3 linked regions of the Homo sapiens genome follow. The protein of the gene in region 1 purifies or fractionates together with the protein of each later gene. This does not show direct contact. Each region holds a gene or a part of one and is shown on either strand. Other genes may lie near its edges.

Evidence for each region.
Region 2: the proteins of AHCY (region 1) and PYGL fractionate together in Homo sapiens (co-fractionation; one large-scale study listed by BioGRID). This does not show direct contact.
Region 3: the proteins of AHCY (region 1) and ARCN1 fractionate together in Homo sapiens (co-fractionation; one large-scale study listed by BioGRID). This does not show direct contact.

The regions. Positions count from the first base shown.
Region 1 is NC_000020.11:34,279,639-34,283,085, reverse strand, and holds the end of AHCY (adenosylhomocysteinase), read left to right. Parts: intron 1-1,920; coding exon 1,921-2,052; 3' UTR 2,053-2,818; downstream 2,819-3,447. UniProt on the Homo sapiens protein: Catalyzes the hydrolysis of S-adenosyl-L-homocysteine to form adenosine and homocysteine. Binds copper ions.
Region 2 is NC_000014.9:50,920,333-50,923,985, reverse strand, and holds part of PYGL (glycogen phosphorylase, liver form), read left to right. Parts: coding exon 1-17; intron 18-2,918; coding exon 2,919-3,030; intron 3,031-3,362; coding exon 3,363-3,445; intron 3,446-3,653. UniProt on the Homo sapiens protein: Allosteric enzyme that catalyzes the rate-limiting step in glycogen catabolism, the phosphorolytic cleavage of glycogen to produce glucose-1-phosphate, and plays a central role in maintaining cellular and organismal glucose homeostasis.
Region 3 is NC_000011.10:118,592,845-118,596,497, forward strand, and holds part of ARCN1 (coatomer subunit delta), read left to right. Parts: coding exon 1-12; intron 13-745; coding exon 746-854; intron 855-1,159; coding exon of another isoform or gene 1,160-1,222; intron 1,223-3,653. UniProt on the Homo sapiens protein: Component of the coatomer, a cytosolic protein complex that binds to dilysine motifs and reversibly associates with Golgi non-clathrin-coated vesicles, which further mediate biosynthetic protein transport from the ER, via the Golgi up to the trans Golgi network.

The sequences.
Region 1 (3,447 bases):
TAGGCTGGGCCCTGGTCCTACTGTTGCCCGCCTCTCTGCTGAGCACATCACCTTCTGCAGGCTCTTTGCTTCATCTGAAGATACAAGGATAAACCGCACCCATCCTACTTCTTAAGGGTGTTTGGGAGGCTCTAATGAAACAGTAGATGTGAAACCACTTGGGAATGTAAAAGCTGTGGGCTGAGCTGTGGTCAGAGGCCGCCATGCCATCATGGGACAGGATGGGGTCCCTTAGGGGTAGGGAGAGGCCTACCTCATGAGAGAGTTAGAGGCTTGCTTGTATTTAACTCTTGCCTCTGTCCTCCTCGGTTTCTGCATAATCTCTTCAAAGCTGCTCTAGAGGCCATAAGCTGGGATGCTTGAGACACATTTTGGGGCTTTGAAGCCAGATAGACCTGGGTTCAAATCCTAGCTCTGTCATTCACTAGCTTGGTGACCGTGGACACGTCATTTCACGTTTCTGAACCTTGATTTCCTCATTTTATAAAAGGAGGATGGCAGTGGATTAGAATCCTTTTGGTCACAAGTGATAGAAACACTATTCAAACCAGTGTATCAGTTATCTTGCTGCATAACAATCTAACCCCCAGACTTACTGGCTTCAAATAATAAATATTTATTATTTCAGTTTCTGTGGGTCAAGAATTTGAGATCAGCTTAGCTGGCTGCTTCTGACTCAGGCTCTTTCATGAGGTTGCGGTCAAGATTTCTGCCAGGGCTGCAATCATCTGAAGGTTTGACTGGGTCTGGAAGATCCTCTTCACATCGCTGTTGACAGGAGGTCTCAATTCCTCATGCATGGGCCTCTCCAGAGGGCTGCTTATGCATCCTCAGGAGATGGCATCTGGCTTCCCCCAGAGTAAGTCATCCAGAGGAGAGCAAGGAGGAAGCCACAGGGTCTCTATGAACTTGTGTCCAAAGTCACACACCATCACTTCTGCTTTCTTCTATTCATTAGAAAGGAATCACTCGGTGGGGTGGGGGGAGGCGGTGGGGATTAGGCTCTAATTCTTAAAGGAGTATCAAAGAATTTATAGATACATTTTAATCAAAAAAAGCAACCAGTTTAATCCAAAAAAGAACTTTATTCTCGAATCTGCCAGGCACGGTGGCTCACGCCTGTAATCCCAGCACTTTGGGAGGCTGAGGCAGGCAGATCACCTGAGGTCAGGAGTTCGACACCTGAGGTCAGGAGTTCAAGAACAGCCTTACCAACATGGTGAAACCCCATCTCTACTAAAAACAGAAAGTTAGCTGGACGTGGTGGTGCACGCCTGTAATCCCAGCTCCTCGGGAGGCTGAGGCAGGAGAATCACTTGAACCTGGGATGTAGAAGTTGCAGTGAGCCGAGATCGTGCCACTGCACTCCAGCGTGGGCGTCCGAATGAGACTCTGTCACAAAAAAAAGAACTTTATTCTCGGATCCAAACACTGGAAACCTAGGATTCCGTGTCATCATGGCTCTGTCCTTCTGTCTCTCGGATCTATCTTCATTTCACTTGTAAAATAGACTTGGAACTGGTGAGCTGAGATTGATAGATACCCTTCCCTGTTTAGGAATCCCAGTGGGGTTGGAGCACCTTGTCTCTGCCTGTCATGGAAAATATGTCCTGTGCATAGATCAATTCCAGAGAAGCATTTTGGTTAGCTGCTTGAGTTGAAGAATGAGGAAGGAGATGTGATTGATGGTCCTGTCAAGCCACATGTAGGGGAGGGTGTGGCATGGTTCCCTTTTGAGGGGGGCTGGGCAGCCAAAACAACACATTAACTGAGGCTGGGTGTGAGGATAGAAAGAGTTAACATGAGTACCACACATGGCAGAAACCCTAACAGAACACTTCTGCCTCTATTGGCAGCCAGACGCGTGTAGGGGTCCCAGAAAATGGCACTGATTCCCGGTCTTCCTTTGTTTCTCCCCAGCTGGATGAGGCAGTGGCTGAAGCCCACCTGGGCAAGCTGAATGTGAAGTTGACCAAGCTAACTGAGAAGCAAGCCCAGTACCTGGGCATGTCCTGTGATGGCCCCTTCAAGCCGGATCACTACCGCTACTGAGAGCCAGGTCTGCGTTTCACCCTCCAGCTGCTGTCCTTGCCCAGGCCCCACCTCTCCTCCCTAAGAGCTAATGGCACCAACTTTGTGATTGGTTTGTCAGTGTCCCCCATCGACTCTCTGGGGCTGATCACTTAGTTTTTGGCCTCTGCTGCAGCCGTCATACTGTTCCAAATGTGGCAGCGGGAACAGAGTACCCTCTTCAAGCCCCGGTCATGATGGAGGTCCCAGCCACAGGGAACCATGAGCTCAGTGGTCTTGGAACAGCTCACTAAGTCAGTCCTTCCTTAGCCTGGAAGTCAGTAGTGGAGTCACAAAGCCCATGTGTTTTGCCATCTAGGCCTTCACCTGGTCTGTGGACTTATACCTGTGTGCTTGGTTTACAGGTCCAGTGGTTCTTCAGCCCATGACAGATGAGAAGGGGCTATATTGAAGGGCAAAGAGGAACTGTTGTTTGAATTTTCCTGAGAGCCTGGCTTAGTGCTGGGCCTTCTCTTAAACCTCATTACAATGAGGTTAGTACTTTTAGTCCCTGTTTTACAGGGGTTAGAATAGACTGTTAAGGGGCAACTGAGAAAGAACAGAGAAGTGACAGCTAGGGGTTGAGAGGGGCCAGAAAAACATGAATGCAGGCAGATTTCGTGAAATCTGCCACCACTTTATAACCAGATGGTTCCTTTCACAACCCTGGGTCAAAAAGAGAATAATTTGGCCTATAATGTTAAAAGAAAGCAGGAAGGTGGGTAAATAAAAATCTTGGTGCCTGGAAGAATTTTGAGCCTTTATTTTATAGATAATCCTCTGCCAACAATGTATGCCATGAATAGGGGGTTATAGTCGTGCTGATGAAGCATTCACGGGGTACTCTGCAGTGGAACGGCTGTCTGTGGTCCTTAGGCTTGAAAGAATGGGTAAAGTGAAGAGGGAACTCTTTCGTTTTTTTTTGAGACAGAGTCTCGCTCCGTCACCCAGGCTGGAGTGCAGTGATGCAATCTCAGCTCAATGCAACCTTCGCCTCCTGGGTTCAAGCGATCCTCCTGCCTCAGCCTCCTGAGTAGTTGAGATCACACCCAGCTAATTTTTTTTTGGTATTTTTAGTAGAGACGGGGTTTTACCATGTTAGCCAGGCTGATCTTGAACTCCTGACCTCAAGTGATCTGCCTGGGATTATAGGCGTGAGCCACTGTGCCCGGCTGTTTGCAGTATTTTTAAAAGTGCACTAAGTGGGGACTCACATTAAGTTCTAAAGATACAATGTCAAGTAAAACCCTTAAGTCACACTCAATGGCCCATGATCAGTGAGGCATGAGGGGCTGAAAACTGCTCACTCTGGCTTAGATGCTCATCAGTGTGTCCTGCCTGACAATTAATTCTTACCTTTTCTTTTTCCCTGAGTGC
Region 2 (3,653 bases), on another chromosome or scaffold:
AGTGGATTGACACTCAAGTATTCAGAGTGCTCGTATAGCCAGCGTTTTGTATAGTATTTAGTACAGTAGATAATACATTGACTATGTAGCATATAGTGGTGATATTGAGTATAGGGCATGTCGTGTTTTGAATAATAGAATATATTTTTGTAAATAAATCTGTTACTTCTCTTAGCGCAGCCCAGTCATTTTGGAGACAAAGGAGCTGAGGCCAAGAGAGGAGTGACTTTTATAAGGGTCATTTTGCAACCAGCTTTGTCAGAAAATTGTCAGTTCTTTTTTTTTTTTTTTTTTTTTTGCCAGAAAATTGTCAGTTCTATAGTAACCAGCATGCTTACCTCTTTGGTTTTATATTAAGGTGTTGATAGCAAAATTGAATAATTTGAAATGTCATTCCTGGCTGGGTGCAGTGGCTCACAACTGTAATCCCAGCACTTTGGGAAGCCGAAGCGGGCAGATCACCTGAGGTCAGGAGTTCAAGACCAGCCTGGCCAACATGGTGAATCCCTATCTGTACTAAAAATACGAAAATTAGCCAGGAGTGGTGGCCCATGCCTATAGTCCCAGCTACATGGGAGGCTGAGGCAGGAGAATCGCTTGAACCTAGGAGGTGGAGGTTGCAGTGAGCTGAGATCATGTCGCTGCACTCCAGCCTGGGTAACAGAGTGAGACTCTGTCTCAAAAAAAATAAAATAAAATAAAATAAAAATAAAAGTTTGCAGTTTACACAATCAATCCTGGAAGCATTTTATTTACACTGTGGGTCCCACTGCTGAGCTAACTTGCATTTACAAAACACCTCTAGATACTGTCATAATGTATCCAGAAATTCAATTAGAGAGAGTGTGTGTTTCTGGGCCAACAGAGGCAAGGTTAGGGGGCAGAGGTAATATAAGTGAGCTGGCCCAAGCCATGCAACTTAGCCTCATAGATTGAAGTCATCACATGAATTAACCCCAAACTGGTACCCAGTGATGTCAGAGCATGAGTCCAGATGTGCTCTGTGCGTGCATGGGATGGCTTCCAATAAAGTCAAATGACACAGTCACGTGTCAGTTTAGGTCCTCTAGGAAACAGACACCAGAGAGAATGAGAAGTGCAAGTGACATATTGGGGGATGCCTATGAAAGACAAAGGGGAGAGGGAGCAGGATGAGGTGGGAAGGCTTCAGACTGTGACACAGGTGTGCCACCTGTGAAAAGTGAAGGGGAAAGAAGCAGCATTCTCAGGGAGAGCCTCAGACCACAGTGCCACTCTGAGCAAGTGGCCAGGCTGATGGAGCCTGACACTAAAGATTGCCCATTAGAGAAGTCTCGGCCCTAGTGTCCCAGCCACATGGAGTGTCCCAGAGAGCGCAGCTTTGGTGTGAGCTCTGAGGGAGCAAGTCCTCTTTGAGGTTCTCTGAAAGAAGATCTAAGCTGTGCACTTCTTGGGCTGCCTTAATTATGCTTCAAGGGTCAGAAGGGTCCAACTCTTGTTTGAACCGAGACTCAATCCCAGCCTGCAAATGACTTTCCCTGATTGATTACAACTTGCTTTAAAAGTCCAGAGACTTTTATCTCTTAATGAAAGATATTTAAATGAGGGTGATTTATTACTTTGAGGTCGCGGTGATCACGAAAGTATGACTGAGTATATGTGATTGATATGGGCCATAATGCTTCATTCATTCACAATTCAGCAGACCAAATTAAAGAGATGCGTGTTTAAGTTTCAATCCTGCCATGACTGTGATCTTGGGCAAGTCACTTCTCTCTCAGCTTCAGCTCCCTCATGTCCAAAATAAGTGGGTTGCACTAAATGAGATCCAGCATCCTCCAGTTCAATTATTCTGTCATTCTCCTTCCTTCGAGCTTGACTCTGATGAGGCCGGGAATAAAAATGAATGATTTCTCACTTGAATTTTCGATGCACTGTGAAACATAGTTAATCTTCCTCTTCTCTATTTCAGTGACTGTCACAAAGATCAAGCTAGATTTTCCAAAGCTTACCTCTTAGACTCAACTCAGCTAATTATCAGCTGATTTGGCAGATCACTGTAGGAATCACTAAAATAACTCCTTATGCAACTTTAAAAATCTAGCATAGCATTTTAAATATTATATGAGATGTTATAGCTTCATAAATTTCCTATTCCATTTACTTTCATCATACTTGAAATCAGATCACTGAAAAACCTATGCAAAACATATTCTAAGTGCTATTTTTTGGTGGGTACAGATTCACAATGTCACTTTGTTTGCATATCATATTTTATTATTATTAGAGCAATGGCTTTATCTGAAACATGAAAGATAAACTTTTTTGGCTGGGTGCAGTGGCTCACGCCTGTAATCCCAGCACTTTGGGAGGCCGAGGTGGATGGATCACGAGGTCAGGAGATCGAAACCATCCTGGCTAACACGGTGAAACCTCGTCTCTACTAAAAATACAAAAAAATTAGCCGGGCATGGTGGCGGGCACCTGTAGTCCCAGCTACTCGGGAGGCTGAGGCAGGAGAATGGTGTGAACTTGCAGTGAGCCGAGATTGCACCACTGCACTCCAGCCTGGGCAACAGAGTGAGACTCCGTCTCAAAAAAAAAAAAAGATAAACTTTTTTGAATACAAATACCATATCATTCCATTCCACTGCATTTATATCAGGGCAAGGGCACATGGAGAGTCAACATAGAAATACTGTAAAGGACCATCAGTGTGGATGGTTTCAGTCACTAGATTGTACCAGGTCGGGGAGGAACCACATGTTCCTCTAATACCCTCTGCAGCCCTGAGACCCTCTTCTCCATTTAGGCCTCACACAATTTAAGTTGGTAATGGAGCCAGGAATAGAATTCCATTGCAGTCTCCCAGCCCCTTGTTCAACCTATGTCATCACACTTGGGAAACAATGAGCAGCTGCTTCTGTTTAATCCCACAGGTGGTCCTGGCTCTGCCATATGACACCCCCGTGCCCGGCTACATGAATAACACTGTCAACACCATGCGCCTCTGGTCTGCTCGGGCACCAAATGACTTTAACCTCAGAGACTGTGAGTACAGCACAGGCCTTGGTTTCTTTATGCGTGTGCTTAATCTTTTTGATTGGTAGTTAGAACCAAATTGAGCTTGAAACAAACAAAAAAGCCTTGAGTTTCTGATCTGAACTTCACTGACTAAGCAGGCATTGTATGGAGGAAGTAGGGAGGGCATTTTTAAAGCAATTCTCATGTGAAGTCCAGCATGACGGTGTGTTGAAATCCTTTGGGATTTTTAGGAATTTTAGGAATCCCACATGACACACAGCACAGAGCCAGTGAGATCAAGAGGTTTCCAACAACAATGGCTGGTTTCTCTATTTATTGTTTCTCTAACTTTCCCCTAGTTAATGTTGGAGACTACATTCAGGCTGTGCTGGACCGAAACCTGGCCGAGAACATCTCCCGGGTCCTCTATCCCAATGACAATGTGAGTGATCAAGGTTGCTTTCTTAGTGGCAACAGAGGCAGCTTATTTCACAAGAGCCTGTTCAGTAACCTATAAAACACATTTAATATTGATGTTTTTCCATGTGCAGAACAAGCTCCGTATTTCTTCCTGAATTGTGTAGATTTCTCCTCCCAACCAAGTAAGGAAAACAAATCTGTATAGTGCATGAAATCAGAATTGGTATTTT
Region 3 (3,653 bases), on another chromosome or scaffold:
TTCCACTGACAAGTAAGTGCCTCTGGCCAGTCCCACTAAGCTAGTTTGCATTGAGAACTAGAAATAGCCCTTGCTGGTACACTTTTATTTTTATTACCATAGCAAAGTTCTTTCTGACAAAATGACTTTCTTTTGAAATGGACCTGGTGCTGCATTTTGTATATTTTTATCATTAGTTTTCATTTTTAATAGCTTTCATTTTGAAACCATTGTAGTTTTGTTGTTGTTATTGTTTTAGAGACAAGGTCTTCTTCTGTTGCCCAGGCTGGAGTGCAGTGGGGCAATCATAGCTCACTGCAGCATCAAACTCCTGGACTCAAGCCATCCTCCTGCCTCAGCCTCTTTAGTAGCTGGGACTAGGACTATAGGCACATGCCACCACATCCAGCTAACTTTTTTTAAAAGACACAAACTCCCTCTGTCACCCAGGCTGGAGTGCAGTGGTGTGATCATGGCTCATTACAACCTTGAACTCCTGGGTTCAGCTGATCTCCCACCTCAGCCTCCTGAGTAGCTAGGAGAACAGGGAAGTGCCACCACGCCTGGCTTTTTTTTTTTTTTTTTTTGGTATAGGTGGAGTCTCACTTTGTTGCCTAGGCTGGTCTTGAACTCATGGCCTCAACCAATCCTCCCACCTCGATCCTACCACCTTGGTCCTCTAAAGCGCTGGGGTTACAGGCATGAGCCACTGCACCCAGCCATCTTTTTCTAATATTCTAGTATGACTGCTTTGCTTTCTCCTCAGTTAATTGCTGGCCCTCGGAGAGTGGAAATGGCTGTGATGTCAACATAGAATATGAGCTACAAGAAGATAATTTAGAACTGAATGATGTGGTTATCACCATCCCACTCCCGTAAGTGCTGTCCCTGTGTCCTCTACGGTGGACTTAGAGAACTGGTCTTTTGGAACTCATTTTGGAGTCAGCACCTACCTGACCTGACTGTCCATTCAAAGATACTTCTTTAAAAAGCTAGTTGTGAAAGAAGCCAGATACAAAAGGCTGCATGTTATGTGATTCCACTTCTTTGTCTTTCTGGAAAAGGTAATACTATTGAATAAAAATGAGGAGGTAGAGAAGAAGGTACTTCACTTCAGAGGGGCACAAGGGAACTTTTGGGAATGATAGGAATGTTCTAGGACTTGTGTTTGCTTTGGCAGCACAGGTACTAAAATTGGAACCATACAGAGAAGATTAGCATGGGCCCTGTGCAAGGCTGACATGTAAGTTATGAAACATTTCATATTTATAAATAAGTAAAGCAAGGAAATTGTTTTTTTGAGACAGAGTCTCACTCTGTCACTGGAGGTCACTGGCACGATCTCAGCTCACTGCACCCTCCACCTCCCAGGCCCAGGCTATCCTCCTGCCTCACCCTCCCGAGTAGCTGGGACTACAGGCGCACACCACCACGCTTGGCTAATTTTTGTATTATTTGTAGGGACGGAGTTTTGCTGTGTTGTGCAGGCTGATCTCAAACTCCTGAGCTCAAGTGATCTGCCCGCCTCGGCCTCCCAAAGTGCTGGGATTATAAGCGTGAGCCACCACACCCAGCCAAGAATTGCTCTGTGACTTGATTGTGGTGGTGCTTACTGCATACACTTGTTGAAATACATTGAGCACTTGGAAGGGATGGATTTTACTGACTTTAAAACCAAATTGAACAAGCCAGTTGTAGATCTGGAGCTGTTTTTATTTATTTATTTATTTTTTATTTTTATTGGAGACTGAGTTTCACTCTTGTTGCCCAGGCTGGAGTGCAATGATGTGATCTCGGCTCACTGCAACCTCCACCACCTAGGTTCAAGTGATTCTCCTGCCTCAGCCTCCCGAGTAACTGGGGTTACAGGCATGTGCCATCATGCCCAGATAATTTTTGTATTATTAGTAGAGACGGGGTTTCACCATGTTGGCCAGGCTGGTCTCAAACTCCTGACCTTAGATGATCTGCCCGCCTTGGCCTCCCAAAGTGCTGGGATTATGGGCGTGAGCCACCGCACCTGGCTATTTTTATTTTTATTTTTTTGAGACAGTCTCACTCTGTCAGCCAGGCTGCAGTGCAGTGGTGCAACCTTGGCTTACTGCAACCTCCACCTCCCAGGTTCAAGCGATTCTCGTGCCTCAGTCTCCCAAGTAGCTGGGATTACAGGCGTGTGCCACCACGCCCAGTTAATTTTTGTATTTTTAATAGAGATGGGGTTTCACTATGTTGGCCAGGCTGGTCTCAAACTCCTGTCCTCAAAATGATCCACCTGCCTTGGCTTCCCAAAGTGCTGGGATTACAGGCGTGAGCCACTGCACCTGGCCTGGAGCTGTTTTTAGATGTTGGTCCTCAGCTTGTTTGTGTAGTAATGAAGATTTCCAGAAGGAGGAGCCATTTGTCAGTCAAACTTTCTGTTTTGCAGGTTTCAAAGAAATTGAGTCTATCGGGCTGAATGTTTCATTTTCACGTGCTAGTCTCTAAACTTTCACTAAAGATGAGAGTGTGTTCAAGGGAACTGTTGATTCTTGTTGAACAAGATGTCTACATTAGTTACAGTAAATTTCCTAACAGCCCTTTTGGAGCATAATTTATATACAATAAACTACACATATTTTAATTGTATAATCTTGACATGTTTACACTTGTGAAACCACCACCATAATCAAGATAACAAAAATGTCATGTCAACCCCAGAAGTTGAGTTCCAATAAGCTTTTGTTGTACACTTAAATGGCCCACTATCTAGGATCAACTGGAAATGGTCTCTACCTTATCTTTTTAGTAACATTTACAGTGAGCATGCAGTTATTACTTCACAGTAAATCCTAGCTCCTTTCACCTACCCATCAGCCCTCATGATTAAGCACAATGTTTAATTATGAGCACCAGTAAGTGTATTCTTAGTGTATCTTTACTGTTATGTCGCTCAGTTATTGCTGCAGAGAAAATGGTACTAATTTGCCAGGCGCAGTGGCTCACGCCTGTAATCCCAGCACTTTGGGAGGCCGAGGCGGGCGGATCACGAGGTCAGGAGATCGAGACCATCTTGGCTAACACAGTGAAACCCCGTCTCTACTAAAAATACAAAAAATTAGCTGGGCCTGGTGGCGGGCGCCTGTAGTTCCAGCTACTCCGGAGGCTGAGGCAGGAGAATGGTGTGAAGCCGGGAGGCGGAGCTTGCAGTGAGCTGAGATCGCGCCACTGCACTCCAGCCTGGGTGACAGAGCGAGATTCCGTCTCAAAAAAAAAAAAAAGTACTAATTTAATTCATAGTTTTCTTCCCTTTTTGATAATTCAAGCCTTTACATTATCAGGTCTGGTTTTAGTCATTCTTGTTTCCAATTTTAAAAATATACTTTATTACCAGTATCCCCTTTAATGGGTAACCATCTTATCCTCTACAGTATGGTTATTGCTTCAGAACAATAGATGGCTGCCTTGAACTGTTGTAGGACTTGGGTGTTGGTGACAGGTAGAGTTTTGTTTGTCAAGATTTAGTTTACTAGACTATTTATAGAATGCTACAATTTTGAGGCCTGTCTACCCTATAATTGTGGTTGTGGTGGTTTCCTGTATTCTAGTTCAGTTTTGCAATGGTCTCCAGAAGAGACCCTTACACAACATTTTACTCCCGTTGTCTAGAACTGATCAAATTAGAAGAGATCAGAATC